2 separate regions of the Homo sapiens genome follow, and region 2 is linked to region 1. Evidence: fine-mapped expression QTL. Tissue or cell type: whole blood. Region 1 holds a variant in brackets; the other region holds the start of a gene. All regions are shown on one strand. Distances are between the middles of the regions.

Region 1 (8,107 bases):
AAGCTTCCATAATTCTGTGACTTGATTTCACAGGAATGTTTGCAAAATGGGGAAGTTGGATGGCTCATGAAGCAAAAATGAAAGGAAAGGTTTCAGTTTCCATTCTATGATTTCAAATCAGTCTCAGCTATATTTCTGCATGGTCCTACCATCTGGAAAGAGGCTTCTAGGAAACCAGGCACAATTGTAAAGGGGTGAGTTTGCCTCTCTTGCTATTTGTGGTATTTTCCACGCTTCCTGAGTAGGCAGAACTTCTCAGCATCTCATACCTCCCCACCCTCTTCCTCTGGTACCCTCAGCAGATGCCCTTTCCTCCCTGGTGGCTCTAAAAGCCATCGAACATGAGTGTCTCATCTCCCTGAGACCAAACTCCCAAGCATCCTTGCACACATCTCCATCTTCCCTCCTCCCTCAGTGAGCCCCTGTCTGTCCCCTTCTCATGCTCTCTGATCCCATTCCTTTCTTCCTTTCATAGATACCTTGATCCATATCTCCCATTTCTCCCTCAGATCATTACTTCCTCCTTTTCTGGATTCTTTCCCTCAACATTCACATTTGCTCTAATATGCTCCAATTTTCTGTTTTCCTCACTTCTTTCTTGTCTTTTTATAGATAAAGGAAGTATTTTTTTCCTCGATCCAATTTTTCCCCACTTCTACTTTGAAAGCCATAAATTCTATTTCTATTCTTTTGGTAGTTAACATGGGAATTTTAACATGACATTTAAGATATCAACTTCTAAAGTCATAGACATCTTTATCCTCCTCCAGGACAATAACGAGGACCTAAAGACCACTGCAACACTGAGCACCCGTTCCTGACTTATGCTATTATTGTCATGCATTTTCTGATTGTTCTTGATGGTACAATTTTTTTTTTAGAGAGACAAAGTCTTACTCTGCCACCCAGGCTGGAATGCAGTGGCATGATCATAGCCCATTGCAGCTTTGAACTTCTGGGTGCAAGTGATCCTCTTTACTTAGCCTCCTGCTTAGCTAGGACTACAGGTACATGCCACCAAACCTGGCTGATTCTTAAAAAGTTTTTGTACAGATGGGGTCTCACTATGTTGCACAGGCTGGTCTTGAACTCCTGGCCTCAAGCAGTCCTCCCTTCTTGGCCTCCCAATTTTGGGATTGCAGGTGTGAGCCACCATACCTGGCCTAGATTTTTGTACATCAATCTTGCATCTTGAAACTTTATAAGAGTCATTTATTAGTTTTAGTTGCTTTTTTGTTGTTTCCATCAGATTCTCTACATAATCAAGTCATTTTTATATAAGGACACTTTTACTTCTTCCTTTCCAATGTGGATGACTTTTTACTTATTTTTCTTGCCTTTTTACACTGGATACTTCCTCCAGTACAATGTTGAATAGAACTAATAACCATGAAATCCTTGTTTTTTTCCGATCTTAGTTAACAGAAGGATTCAATATGTCACCAATGAGTATGATGTTTTCTGTTTTATTCTCTAGCAGGTTGAATAAGTTCCTCTATATTCCTAGCTCACGAAGACTTTATTTTTATTTTTATTTTTTATCAGGAATGGATTTTGGATTGTCTTTTCTACAACTATCAAGATAATTATACGGTTTTTCTTTTTTCTTTTTTTTTTTTTTTGAGATGGAGTCTCACTATTGTCACCCAGGCTGGAGTGGCATGTTCTCGGCTCACTACAACCTCTGCATCCTGGGTTCAAGCGATTCTCTTGCCTTAGCCTCCCAAGTAGCTGGGATTACAGGCACCCGCCGCCATGCTTGGCTAATTTTTGTATTTTTAGTAGAGATGAGTTTTCACCATGTTGGCCAGGCTGGTCTCAAACTTCCAACCTCAAGTGATCTGCCCGCCTCGGCCTCCCAAAGTGCTGGGATTACAGGCGTGAGCCACCACGCCCGGCCTATGGTTGTTCTTTATTAGCTTTTTGATATGGTGAATTACATGATTGTTTTAGAACATCAAGCCAGCCTTTTATACTTGAATAAACCCCACTTGGTCATGATGTATTCTTCTTTTTGCTCAACATCAAATTTTGAGCAATTTGATGTTGTTTTCTTCATGTTTCTTCTGCTTCATCTTCACAGAATGTATTCACTCTATGGGTCTTTATATTACTGTATTTGATTTACACAATTTATTTTAGAATATTTTGCATCTAAGTTCATAAAAAGATATTTTCTTATAGTTTTTGTTCTTGTAATGACTTTGTCTGATTTTGGTATGAGTTACGCTGGCCCTACCAGATGAATTAAGAAGCATTCTTTCTTGTACAACTTCTGGAAGTTTATATAGAAATGATGTCAGCCGGGCATGGTGGCTCACGCCTGTAATCCCAACACTTTGGGAGGCTGAGGCGGGTGGATCACCTGAGGTTGGGAGTTCGAGACCAGCCTGATCAACATGGAGAAACCCCGTCTTTACTAAAAATACAAAATTATCTGGGCGTGGTGGCACATGCCTGTAATCCCAGCTACTCGGGAGGCTGAGGCAGGAAAATTGCTTGAACCCGGGAGCTGGAGGTTGCAGTGAGCCGAGATCGCGCCATTGCACTCCAGCCTGGGCAACAAGAGCGAAATTCCATCTCAAAAAAAAGAAAAGTAAAAAGAAATGATGTCTCTGGTATAATTTATCAGTTAAGCCATCTGAGTCTAGAGCTTTCTTTGTGGTAAGGTTTTAAACTGCACTTTCAATTTCCTCAATCAGGCTATTTAGAGTGTCTGTTCTTGAGTAAAATCTAGTAATTGATATCTTTTAAGGAATTTGCCCATTTTATCTAAGTGGTTCAAAATTTTTGACATACAGTTTTTAAAAAATATTCCTTGATTATCGTTCTAATATTCATAGAATCTCGCATTTGAAACTCAGGAAAGCAGTGCAAAAATGTTGATACTCTGGCTACTGCTATTGATGTGAATAATAAAGTCCTTTGCCTCTGACCCAGGAGTCTCATGTCTTTTACCAGCATCCATGAAACTGGAGCAGTCCAGATTATTAACTTGCAAGTAGGGTAAATACTTTATGTACTTTAGTTCTTGATGTCCTTTACTTTGAACCTTTGTGTAACTTTATATATAAAGTGTATTTGCATAGGCAGCATACAGTTGGGTCTTACTTCTTTGTCCAGTCTGATAATCTGTTTTGTAAGTGGGGAGTTTAGACCATTTACATCTAATGCGATTATTAACATGGTTAGGTTTAAGTCAATCATCTTCCAAATGTTCCCTATTTGTTTCATCTATTCTTTTTCCTATTTTTTTCCTGCTTTCTTTTGGATCAATTGAATATTTTTAATGATTTTATCCCCTTTGTTGGTGTTTTAGCCCTAACTCCTTGATTTGTTATCTTAATAATTGTTTTAGGGATTGTAGTATATATCTTTAACTTATCAGAGGTCTATGTTGAAATTATATTTTATTACTTCACATGCAATATACAAGCCTTACAATAATATTCTTTAATTTCTCTTTTTCTGAACTCTGTGCTAGTGCTGCCATACATTTTACTTTTATATATTATAAATCTCATATTACATTGTTATTATTTTTCTAAACTGTTCATTCATTTTAAGAGATATTTCAACAATAAAAAAAATCTTATGTTCACTCATGTTATTACTATTTCTAACGCTCTTCTTTCTTTCGTAGAGATCCCTATTTCGATGGGGCATCATTTTCCTTCAACTTGAAGGATGTTAACATTTCTTTCTAGTGATGAGTTCTTTCACTTTTGTATGTCTGAAAAAGTATTTACCTTTATTTTGAGAGACACTTTCACTGGGTATAGGATTCCTGGTTTACAATGTTCTTTCAGTACTTTAAGATGTTATTTCACTGCCTTTTGGCTTGCATTGCTTCTAATGAGAACTCTGTTATAATTCTTATCTGTTCATAACCTGTCTTTCTTCTCTGTGTATAACACATCTTTTTTCCCCTGGCTACTTTTTTTTTTTTTTTGGAGACAAAGTCTCACTTTGCCACCCAGGCTGGAGTGCAATGGTGCAATCTCAGCTCACTGCAATCTCCGCCTCCTGGGTTCAAGCGATTCTCCTGCCTCATCCTCCTGAGTAGCTGGGATTACAGGCACGAGCCACCCCGCCCAGCTGATTTTTGTGTTTTTAGTAGAGACGGGGTTTCACCATGTTGGCCAGGCTGGCCTTGAACTCCTGACCTCAAGTGATCCTCCTGCCTCGGCCTCCCAAAGTGCTGGGATTACAGGCGTGAGCCACCATGCCCGGCCTCCCCTAGCTATTCTTAAGATTTTTTTCTTTGTCCCAAATTTTGAGCAATTTGATGTTGTTTTCTTCATGTTTCTTCTGCTTCATCTTCACAGAATATATTCACTCTATGGGTCTTCATTAAATTGGGGGAAATTTCAGTCACTATTTCTTCAAATGTTTTTCCTGTGCTCTCCTCTAACTCTTCTTTCTCCAGGATTCCAGTTACTTGGTCTATTAGGCTGCTTACTGTTCCACCCTCACTGATGTTCTGTTTCTGTTTTTTAATTCTCTTTTCTCTCTTTTTAAAATTTTTAATAATTTCTCTTGGCCGGGCGTGGTGGCTCAAGCCTGTAATCCCAGCACTTTGGGAGGTCGAGGCGGGCGGATCACAAGGTCAGGAGATCGAG[G/A]CCATCCTGGCTAATACGGTGAAACCCCGTCTCTACTAAAAATACAAAAAATTAGCCAGGCGTGGTGGCGGGCGCCTGTAGTCCCAGCTACTCGGGAGGCTGAGGCAGGAGAATGGCGTGAACCCGGGAGGCGGAGCTTGCAGTGAGCCGAGATCGGGCCACTGCACTCCAGCCTGGGCCACAGAGCAAGACTCCGTCTTAAAAAGAAAATTTTTAATAACTTCTCTTGCTAAGTATTCAAATTCACTAATCTTTCTGATGACTATTTAAAGCTAAACTGTTCGCTTGAGATTTTTGGAAGTATGATTTTGGACTGTAAGGCCAAACAAATGTGAGGGCCAGCTTACGTTTATAAATTCTTAGAGGAGGATTTTTTTCCCTTTCGCTCAGTGTCATGATTTAAGATGGAGCCTTCTTTCTCCCTTCCTTCCTTTCTTTCTTTCCTTCCTTCCTTCCTTCCTTACTTCCTTCCTTCCTTCCTTCCTTCCTCCTTTCCTTTCCCTTTCTCTCTCTGTCTTTCTTTCTTTCTTTCCTTCTTTCCTTCTTTCTTTCTTTTCTGAGACGGAGCCTTGCTCTGTCACCCAGGCTGGAGTGCAGTGGCGTGATCTCAGCTCACTGCAATCTCTGCCTCCCAGGTTCAAGCAATTCTCCTGCCTCAGCCTCCTGAGTAGCTGGGATTACAGGCACACGCCACCAAGCCTGACAAATTTTTGTATTTTTAGTAGAGACGGGGTTTCACCACATTGGCCAGGCTGATCTTGAACTCCTGACCTCAGGTGATCCACCCACCTCAGCCTCCCAAAGTGCTGGGATTACAGGTGTGAGCCACCACACCTGGCCGAGTCTTTTTATTTATTTATTGTATTGAACTTTACGAAATCTCGGCTCCCACTAGAAAAGTTTTAACATTGCTCAGGTGACAGAATGAATGAGGGAGGATGGAAGAGACCTTCCCATTATTTCATAGACCTCAGTATGAAGGCAATTACCTCTCTCTATAAACAAAATCCATCCTATCAACTTCTCAAAGGCATTTTGTTCTATTATTGGTAGAGTCAGGACTATTCCCTTTCTTAAAAGTTGCTTCTCTATGGTATTAAACATTTACAATGTTATTTTGCATTCATTATTTTATTTGTTCTTCGTAATACCCCTGGTGAAGTATGCAAGGCAAGAATTATTCACATTTTACAGCTGGGGAAGCTGAAGCTTGAAGAATAATTTGTCTAACATCACGCTGGTAATAAGTGATAATGCCAGATCTTGAATATAAATTCTGAAGTCCTGCCGATGTGAGACGTGAGTTTGATCCTTATGGTTAATAGTTTGCTTATATATGCCTCCAATGTATATTTTTAAGCTTAAAACATTAACTGGTTAATTAAAGGTGTTATGATCGATACTACAGCACAGACTGTTTAAACACTGTGCTTCTCAAACTTTAATGTGCATACAAGCCAGTGATGATCTTGTTAAAATGCAGGTTCTGATTTGCGAGGTCTCAAGGCTCTGCTGTGTAAAGCTCCCAGGCGAGGCTGCAGGTCTGCAGACAGAAGCATTTGAAATTGCAAGGATTTAGCAGATTTTTGCCAAATAAACAATGACTTATAATGTGAGGGGGAGTAAAGTGTGATTTAAAATGTCCTGGACTAGGGATCAGGTTATGTTGGCTCTAATCTTAAGAAAACACTTGCAGATGCTAGAACTTGGAGTGACGTTAGCGGTTTTCTAACCCAAGTTTTTCATTTTCTACATGTATGGAAATCAAGCCCGGTTGGACGTGATGGCTCATGCCAGTAATCCCAGCACTTTGGGAGGCCGAGGGGGGTTGATTACCTGAGGTCAGGAGTTTGAGACCAGCCTGGCCAACATGGCAAAACCCCCATCTCCACTAAAAATACAAAAAAATTAGCTGGGTGTGGTGGCGGGCACCTGTAATTCCAGCTACTCAAGAGGCTGAGGCAGGAGAATCGCTTGAACCTGGGAGGCGGAGGTTGTAGTGAGCCAGGATCATGGCACTGTACTCCAGTCTGGGCAACAAAAGTGAAATTCCGCCTCAAAAAAAAAAAAAGAAGGAAATCAAGCTCAGAGTGATAAGGAAAGCTGCCTGGAGTCACATAATTAGGGAACTGGAACCTGGGTCCACGTGGCTCTAATATCAGTTCTTTTTCACGAAGCACACTGCCTCTCTAGACAGTAGTGATAATTAGAGCTGGGGCAGACTCCTTAATCTCTTAGCTTCAATATCCTTATCTTTAAAATGAGAGGCCTGGATATGAACACTAAGATTCCCCTATCACTAATACTCGCTAATAGTTAATCTCCCTTATTTCTCACATTGGAGAAGAGTAGAGGGAGAAAAAATGAGTCATCTGCTGCTATAGAACTTTAGACCAAAGACAATTAACCCAAGCACAAAGTAGTGTTTAAAATAAAATGTCAAGTGCAGATGTACCCTGTCCATAGTTAGAAGAGAGTCCTCTGGTTCTCGGACCCTATCAAGTGAGAAAATTGTATTGCCTTTTGCCTCATAACACTTGTATTATTTTCAGGTAAGTTGCCTTAAGGACTAAATTACCGGGGGAGACTTGGAACTTGGCTTACTTTCTGTGACTAAGAGACAACAAAACTCATCATCGAATCCCTTTATCATTGCCAAGTCTTGCAGAAGGAACCTTTAATAACCCTTCAGTGGTGGGCTTCCTACACTTCCTCCACCACCTGACTTTTTTCTGTCTAGATCTTCAGGGTCCATTATGAAGCACTGGAAAAGAGACACTCAGTGTAATTGATCTTTGAAAGATGTGCTTGGAGATTTCTCTTGGATAAAGAAAATAAAAGTTTCTAACAATTTTATGATTTTTCAGATAGCAAGTGTATTTGTATGAATGTTCAGACAAAGATAATGAAAGCACATTACTCAATATAATGTACAAAATTAAGAAAAAGAAGATTAAAATAGAATGGCAAAATTTCAGGCTTTCTGCCAAAATGAAACAAACTAGCCTTTTGATGCATTCGGTAGATCCATACATCCTGATTACAATTTGAATAAACAATGGCTATTTCTTCTTTCTAGAAATGGGATCTTGCTAACTTGCCCAGGCTGGACTCAAACCCGGCCATAATAACCATTTTTAAATCTCCATTTAAATCTTGATGAAGGTTTGTCCTACCAATAGGCTTTGTCCCAAGCATAGAACCTTATCTATATAACATATCTTTATACCTATATAACCATACCTATATAACATACCTGAGTAGCAGATTCTCAAAAGGCAATTTCATCTATGCCAGGGCTGATGCCCTCCAAATCTCTCCTCCAACCAAATCACTCTCCTTGCCCTAGATCCACAAGTTGGGTCTGACCATTGAACGTGTCCCCAAACTGAATTCACCATCTTCCCTATGACTTCTGCATACTCCTATACCTGTTCCTTTCTCTCTATTGTCTCAAGGAGTGGTACATCCACCCACTGGCCAAG
Region 2 (8,107 bases), 140 kb before region 1:
CTCAAGTGATCCACCTGCCTCGGCTTCCCAAAGTGCTGGGATTACAGGAGTGAGCCAACGTGCCTGGTCAAAATTTTTGTTTTCGTAATTTTAAGTATGTGTGTAGTAAGTCTCAATGGAAATGTAATTCTTATGGCAGGTCACTTGAAAAAAAAGAAGTCTAAAAGTCACCAATGTAGTATCTTCTCTTTAAAAAAAAAAAAAAAACAACAGGAGAAAACCTGAATCTGCCCTTTGCTCCACTCCTTCCTCAGCTATAATGCTGCTTCTCCATTCCTCCTCACAGCAAACCTTTCTGAAATCTTTATAGTCATGGTTTCCACCAGTTCTTCACCTCCCATTTCTCAACACACTTCAGAGTCAGAGTCAGCAATGACATCCATGTTCCTAAGCCCATTGCTTACTTCCGTCCTCCTTGGCCTCTCAGCACACTTGGCACACAGGCTGTTTCTCTTTCTTTGGCATCTGTGACACCACTCTCAGCAAATTCCCCTGGTTGTCCCTTCTCAGTCTCATTTATTGGCGTTGTCTTATCTCCCCAGGGCTGTCCGAGGTGATTTTCTCCCACTACTCTCCTAGGTGGTGCCATCCAATCTCATGATGTCATATCATTCTTCCCTCATGCTTCAGCCATACTGGTTGGTGGCCTTTGTTTCCTGAACACATTTAATGCATTCTCAAGACCCTCAGGGACTTTGCAGCAGCTGCTCGCTAAGGCTGGAATGCTCTTCCCCACCATCTTCATATGGCTGTTTCCTTTCTTTCACTCACCAGCAGCTTAAACTTTGACTCCTCTGAGAGACTTTCCTTGTCACCCAACTAAGGTTGCCACTCAGGTGCTCCCAATTTAATCTTCTCTAAAACACATCACTGTATGTGTCCTCAACTAGAGTATAAGCTTCCTCGAAACAAGAACAATCAAAACTCCTTGCCCTCATGGAGTTTATAGTCTTATGATGGGTGAAGTAACATAAAATAAAAAGGCACCTTATATAGTATATTAGCATGACAAATGTTAGCCAGAAATAAAGCAAGGAAGAGTTGCTAGGGAGTGTGTATGAGTGTGTTTTGGGAGAGTGTTTGCAATTTTAAATATTGGTGGTCAGGAAGGGCCCCACTGAGAACTGACATTTGAGTAGACTTGAAAAGGGAAAAGGAAATATTGAGTAAAGATTTTAGGATGGGAGTGTGACAGGCCTGCTAGGAGAATAGCAAAGTCGCTGTGGCTGCTGCAGAAAAAGTGAGAAGGAAAGTAGTAGGAGATGAAATCACAGTGTGTGAGGATTCGGGCAGATCAGGAAGTGCTCGTGTAAGAACTGGATCTTTACTCAAAGAATGAGCAAAAATTAGTAGACGGTTGGCCGGATGCAGTGGCTCACACCTGCAATCCCAGGTTACAGGAGGCCGAGGCGGGCGGATCACTTGAGGTCAGGAGTTCAAGACTAGCCTGGGCAACATGGTGAAACCTCATCTCTACTAAAAATACAAAACTTAGCTGGGCATGGTGGCGCGCACCTGTAGTCCCAGCTACTCAGGAGGCTGAGGCACATGAATCACTTGAACACGGTAGGCAGAGGCTGCAGTGAGCTGAGAATGTAACACTGTACTCCACTCCAACCTGGGCAACAGAGTGAGACTGCCTCAAAAAAAAAAAAAAGTAGGTTTTAGTAAGGGATTAACATGATCTGAATTATGTTTTGTCATGACTTCTCTGGCTGTTGTGTTGAGACTACATTGCAGAGGGGCAAGGGCAAATATAGGGAGACCGATTAGGATACTGCAGTAATAATGTAAGAGATGTGGGACTCTATCTAGAAGGGCCCATGAGGTCCTTTGCATGCTAGTATTCTTTACTGCTGTGCCTGGCCATGATAGGCATTCAGTGAATATTTGCTTATTTAAAATAACACACTGGGCTAATTGAACAACAGTGCCAAATGAGGGAGATATTTCTAGGAATAAGTTCTTAGGATTTATGAACATTTTAATCCAGATTTTCTTTGTTAACTCTGCTCTCTGGCCCTTTCACTCAGCCCCGTTTGCACCTAAATATGACTTACAAAAGAAACACAGCATTTATGTGTACTTATTTCAACTTATTTTAGCTTTGTAAAGAAGTACAAGGTTGACTCAGGGCCCAGCTTGGTGTCTCATGCCTGTAATTTCAGCATTGTGGGAGGCCAAGGCAGGAAGATATTGTGAGCCCAGGAGTTTGAGACCAGCCTGGGCAACACAGTGGACCCTGTCTCTACAAAAAAAAATTTTTAAATTAGCTGGGCATAGTGGTGTGCGTCTATAGTCCCAGCTACTCCTGGGGCTGAGGTGGGAGGATCACTTGAGGGAAACCCTGTCTCAAAGTGGCGGGGCTGGGGGGAGACTCAGGCAGAATTGTGAAGATATTCAATTGCTCCTGACTTTATCAATAATCTAACATTTCAACCTAACATTGATATCTATTTTATGCAAAGCATTACACTATGCACTGGAGACTGTATAAGACAAGTTCCTTTTCTCAAACTACAGTCGAGTTGGATAGATAAAACACACAACACATACCAAAAGACAGCTATAAATCCAAGGCAGTGTATGTCAAGGGTAAATTCACCTATTCAGATTGGATCTTGAGAAGTGCATCAGGCTTGGAAAATGGGTAAGGAGGAGAGAAAAGCAACAGTGAATCAGAACATGAGTTCCCAGTTATGGGACTTGTAATGAATTCCTCAATTAAAACAAAAAATAATGAAAACAAAAGCCAGGGAGGAGAAAGCCCACGTTAATGACACTAAAATATATCTTTCCAAACAAATGTGGATAAAAGCCAAGTAGAGAAGATGAGAACTTTGAGGTCCCTAACAGAAAATAAACAGTAAGCAGCCAGCCATTCCAAGTGGCTGACATGACTTTGTTTAACTTTATTTGTATTTCTGGCTGGTGTGTTTACAGCCAATAGGTCAAACTATCAGTCAGTGTAGGGCCCTGAGAAGTCGGGTATTTAAGAGCATCTAATAGGCACAGAATTGTGCTCCATACTGCTTAAACTGTTCCCTAAGTGTCCAATTTGGAGAAAACACCCACACGCAGGATAACTGGCGAGTGACGCGGAGTGGCTGCGAGTCCAAGTTATCACTAACGGATGGGGAGCTTGGGCTGGGCACAGTCCAGCGTACTGAACCCTTCCCCCACCGTTTCACCTGCATACAGAGGTGTGTACTGTCAAAAAGCAGCGCCTCCAAGTCTCTTCTGGCACTGTCTGGACTTGGATCCGAGGCAGACGAGGAAGCTGAGAAAACCCTGGCGTTGACCCCGTGGACCTGGGCGCCCCGGGAAGGCCAGCGCTTGGTCCAGGCAGGCGGGGCCTGTGCGGTGACCACCCTGGTCCTGAAAAGTCCCAGCCCCGAGCGCCCTCCCTCCTAGACCTGGAGGCCTGGAACAGCCAGGTGGACGTCGGCCCACCTTTCTTTTCTTTCCTTCCCATTTTCCTACCACCTCCCACCCCACTCCGCCTTCCGGGCAAAGGCAGCCAGATCCACCCAGGACACATTCTTTGTCCTTATCCCTCTGTGCTCGTCCCACAGCAAGCCAGTCGCGGTCCAAGGCTCCAGAGGCTGTGCAGGAGGCCGAGCTGGGTGGCGATCAGCGGCGGGTCCCTGTCCAAAACCCAGCAGAGCCGCCAGGGACGCCCCAGACACAGAAGGCGGGGCGCGGGGAGGGTGGGGAGACCACAGCAGTGAGGCGCGCGAGCCGGGAAGTGAACGAGGACTGACTCCTGTCGCTTCCCGTAGCCGCCCACGGACGCCAGAGCCGGGAACCCTGACGGCACTTAGCTGCTGACAAACAACCTGCTCCGTGGAGCGCCTGAAACACCAGTCTTTGGGTGAGTCGCGCGACCCCCGGCCTCGGGTGGCGGGGCAGTCGCTAGAGGCGTGGCTGCTCTGAGGGTCTCGCCAGTGGAGGATGGCATTCGGATGTCACGGCTCCTAAATCACCATTTGATGGGTGGGACAGTGTCCAGTCCACCCCGACCCGCCGGTCCTCACCGCGGCAGAGCCGGGGCTGGGTGGCGGGGACGCTGCCTCTGCAGGCGAGGCGCTCCGGGGCATAAGGGATTATCAGGAGTCGCGGCCTTTCTTGGACATCCCTGGCTGGGGTCAGGCTGTTTGCCCTGGGGTGTCTCCTCGCTGCAAACCCACCCCACCTGGGCTGCTTTCTCACCTGTTCCCTCCTAGCCTGAGGCCGAGCGCCACCTCCAAGTGGAGGAATCTGGGGAAGTTTCCTTCCCGGAATTTGTAGTGACAGTGGAGTGACCTCCATTGCGTTCCCTGCCTCTAACACGCTCTTTAGGATGCCGAGTCATTTGACTGCAGTGTTAAACATTGCAAAGCGCAAGTCATGTGACTTCCTTTGACCGTACGTGAAACTTAAGTGATGGCTGCTTGTGATGCATACGAAGTGTTCATGCTGGCGGGACCTGTCCCTGGGGATACTTCGGGGGTTGCGTGATTTAATGCAAGCAGATGGCTTAAATTGGGTCACTGGCTTGTTATTATACATGTGTATGGCAACTCGGCATCCATTCTTTTTGCTCTTGTTCTTACTTCCTGAATTGAGTCACGGAGCCAGAGTTTTGAGGTTTTGACTAACGAATTAAGTTAATGACATGGGGCTATATTTAGGTGGTAAACCAAGAGGGATACAGTTTTTTTTCTTAATAAAGAAAAAGTGATAGATTTGATCGGTGTGTATTGTTGGTGTGCAGTATAATGACAGAATTGCTGGAAGTAAAATACAGGAAGCTCTGGTTTCATTTCCCCTTTAGTTCTGCTTAAAGTCGAGTTTTTCCTGGAGCTATTAAATGTAGTGTAGTGTCCATGAGTGCTTTTATCTTAAAAAATGTGGCTGATGCTTTCCAACACTCCCCTGCCCTGTGATTATTATTTTTTTAAGCAACAGAGAAAACCGTATCTTAATAGTATTAAAAGTATTGGATTTTTCCCTACTTTGATTTGTTTAAATTGGAGGAGGAAGAGCAATTCTTTCTATTCACAATAATAATAGCTAACATAGCGCTTACTCTTTCGCTGTTTTATTAACTCAATCCTCAGAACAAACCAATGATGTGAATACTGTAATTCTCATTTTATGGAAATGAAAATCTAAATGAATACCTCTGGTAATTGTACGGGACTGTTTGATTAGTATTTACCATTAATTAATTAAATTTTTTTTTTTTTTTGAGATGGAGTCTCGTTCTGTTGCCCAGGCTGGAGTGCAGTGGCACAATCTCGGCTCACTTCAACCTCCGTCTCCCAGGTTCAAGCAATTCTCCTGTCTCAGCCTCCTGAGTAGCTGGGACTACAGGTGCATGCCACTACGTCTGGCTAATTTTTGTATTTTTAGTAGGGATGGGATTTCACCATATTGGTCAGGCTGGTCTCTAACTCCTGAACCTCAGGTGATCCACCCGCCTTGGCCTCCCAAAGTGCTGGGATTACAGGTGTGAGCCACCATGCCTGGCCTATTTTAGTATTTTTAATAATAAATTCCATGTTAGAAATTTTCTACTGATGTATTTTTTAAGTCAATATTTCCTACACTCACAATCCAAAATTATTTAGTATATGAGCACACTGGTAAGAATGGGAGGCAGATCGTTGATTGTAATAATATTCTATTATTTGGTAAATATCAGTAACATAATATATAATTTAAATTTTAAAATAGGATATGAAGAAAAATGCTACATGCTTACTTTTCTTTTCCTCTATTTTTACTTTACACAGGGCCAGTGCCTCAGTTTCAATCCAGGTAACCTTTAAATGAAACTTGCCTAAAATCTTAGGTCATACACAGAAGAGACTCCAATCGACAAGAAGCTGGAAAAGAATGATGTTGTCCTTAAACAACCTACAGAATATCATCTATAACCCGGTAACTGATTTCTATAAGATAACTTTTTACCTATGCCAGGACAGATCCAATAGAATATTAATTATCCATTGGGAGACAGGGCAAGAATAAAAGCCAGTGAACATATTTAAAGCACCTACTATGTAATAGAGATGGTGGTGGGTGCTGATTACAAAACAGCTCTTGTCCTCTAGTGGAGGAAGAAGTCACAATGATAATATGACGTGATGAAACAGTGTTATGAACAGGGAACGTCTGGGTAGAGTGGAGGGAATGCCAACTTTTGGTGATGGGAGGAGGCTCAGCTAATCATAAATTGTAGTTTTTAAAGGAAAATGGATTTCTTACTCTACAAGTTTTTCATTTTCTTTTTTAATTAGAGCTGTCCATGAGAAGTTAATGTCTCGATCTTTCCCTCAGCCTTTCAAATACTGCTTGGCCCTTGAGCAGGGAAAATGTCAAAAGCCAATGGGGAGATGGAGAGTGTGAAGTAGTAAGGGTCTCGTGCAGTTCAGGCAGGTCCTAGAATCCCTGAATGACTGTAATTGCTGGAAATTGCCCTGTAATCCTGAGCAGTAAAGAGCTTGTTTTAGTTTTATGTGGTGGTGAGAATCTTTAGGAATGTCTAGTTTCCACGTATCTGAAGCTGAATCCTGAATCGAGGTCTGAAAAAGGACAGCCACTTTTTTAGTAAACCGCCTAGAAGATTCTTGGGCAAAAGGAAGGGTGAGAATCCTTAAAATGAGGCCCTAAACCAGTTTTGTTAGTGTGTGTGGGTTCAAGTTTTTGTCATTTACTTTATAGCTGTATTTCCTTTTTCCCTAAGTTTTAATGTCATTGTGTAAGAATGAGGTATCGCTGCTGTATCAAGCAAAGTCAGTTTTAGGAGAAATAGCCTTTCAGTGGTAGTAAGTTTAAAAAAGATGACTTCCTGAAGCGGAAGCTTGTGAGACATTTAAGATGACTTTGCGCATGTTAGAGTTAAAAACATCCCAAGGTTGTAAACTGATTTCCTGCAAAGATCTTAACAACAACAACAACAACAAACTAGGCTGCCTGCCACGGGTGTCTGAAGTATCATCTTGGCTCAAGCTGGGAGAATGGATAAAGGTTACACTGTTCATTTCTGCCCTTCACACAGAAAAGAAGATAATTTTATAGGTAAAATTCGTGCATATCTTGATTCTAGCATACTGCTGATTCCTGTAGTTTCTGGGGTCAGTACTCTCAACTATTGAGGTGGAACAAAAATAAGTAGACTTCATTTCTTGAGGAAGGGGATCTGGAGAAGTAGTTCTGCGCTAGAGCAGAAAATGCCTTCAGTCTTGTGGCATGGGCTGGATGCTGTTCTGAGGATAATGCATTTCCAAGGGAGATATTTTTGGCAAATAGCTTTTTTTTCTTTCTTTTCAAAATTCTCTGTTTTATTATCAGTTCTCACAAAAGAGTCGGAAAGGTTAGAGGTAGACTGAACTGAATGGCAAAAACATTTTGCGCTCTCTTTACGTTTCACTGCTGTAAAATATTTATAGTATAAAGGGCCTGTATTGCACTGAATTTCTCTCATTTGTAGCTAGTTGCCCTTTCAATGTTCCAAAAAAAAAGGCTGTAAATAACTTATTTTATTTATTCAATTAATTTTTTTTTTTTAATTTTTTGAGATATAGTTTCCCTCTGGTCACCCAGGCTGGAGTGAAATGATGCAATCTCGGCTTACTGCAATTTCTGCCTCCCGGGTTCAAGCAATTCTAGTGCCTCAGCCTCCTGAGTAGCTGGGACTGCAGGCACGTGCTACCATGCCCGGCTAATTTTTGTGTTTTTAGTAGATATGGGGTTTCACAGTGTTGGCCAGCCTAGTCTCAAACTCCTGACCTCAGGTGATGTGCCCACCTTGACCTCCAAAAGTGCTGGGATTACAGGCGTGAGGCACCATGCCTGGCCAACTTAGTTATTTAAAGATAATCAATTAGTATATTTTATAAGCTAGACTTAGGAAAACGGTTTTCAGCTGGGCATGGTGGCTCACACCTGTAATCCCAGCACTTTGGGAGGCCGAGGCAGGTGGATCACGAGGTCAGGAGTTCAAGACCAGCCTGGCCAAGATGGCGAAACTCCGTCTCTACTTAAAAATACAAAAATTAGCCAGGCGTGATGGCAGCCTCCTGTAATCCCAGCTACTCGGGAGGCTGAGGCAAGAGAA

Evidence for each region. PIP is the estimated chance that this variant, and not a neighbour inherited with it, causes the effect.
Region 2: LGALS8 starts here. The variant in region 1 is fine-mapped to the expression of LGALS8 in whole blood (TOPMed, PIP above 0.99).

What each region holds. Positions count from the first base shown.
Region 1 is chr1:236,664,012-236,672,118 of GRCh38, forward strand. No RefSeq gene overlaps it. Among named protein-coding and RNA genes, the nearest start is that of ACTN2, 18 kb to the right of the region's middle. The variant G/A (reference allele first, on the strand shown) is at 4,623.
Region 2 is chr1:236,520,188-236,528,294 of GRCh38, forward strand. It overlaps LGALS8 (galectin 8), which reads left to right and starts at 3,795. Exons shown (of 10, transcript NM_201544.4): 1 at 3,795-3,874; 2 at 5,781-5,928. The coding sequence starts at 5,884. LGALS8-AS1 (LGALS8 antisense RNA 1) reads right to left here and starts at 4,321. Exons shown (of 1, transcript NR_034040.1): 1 at 2,882-4,321. RefSeq lists a silencer at 4,088-4,137.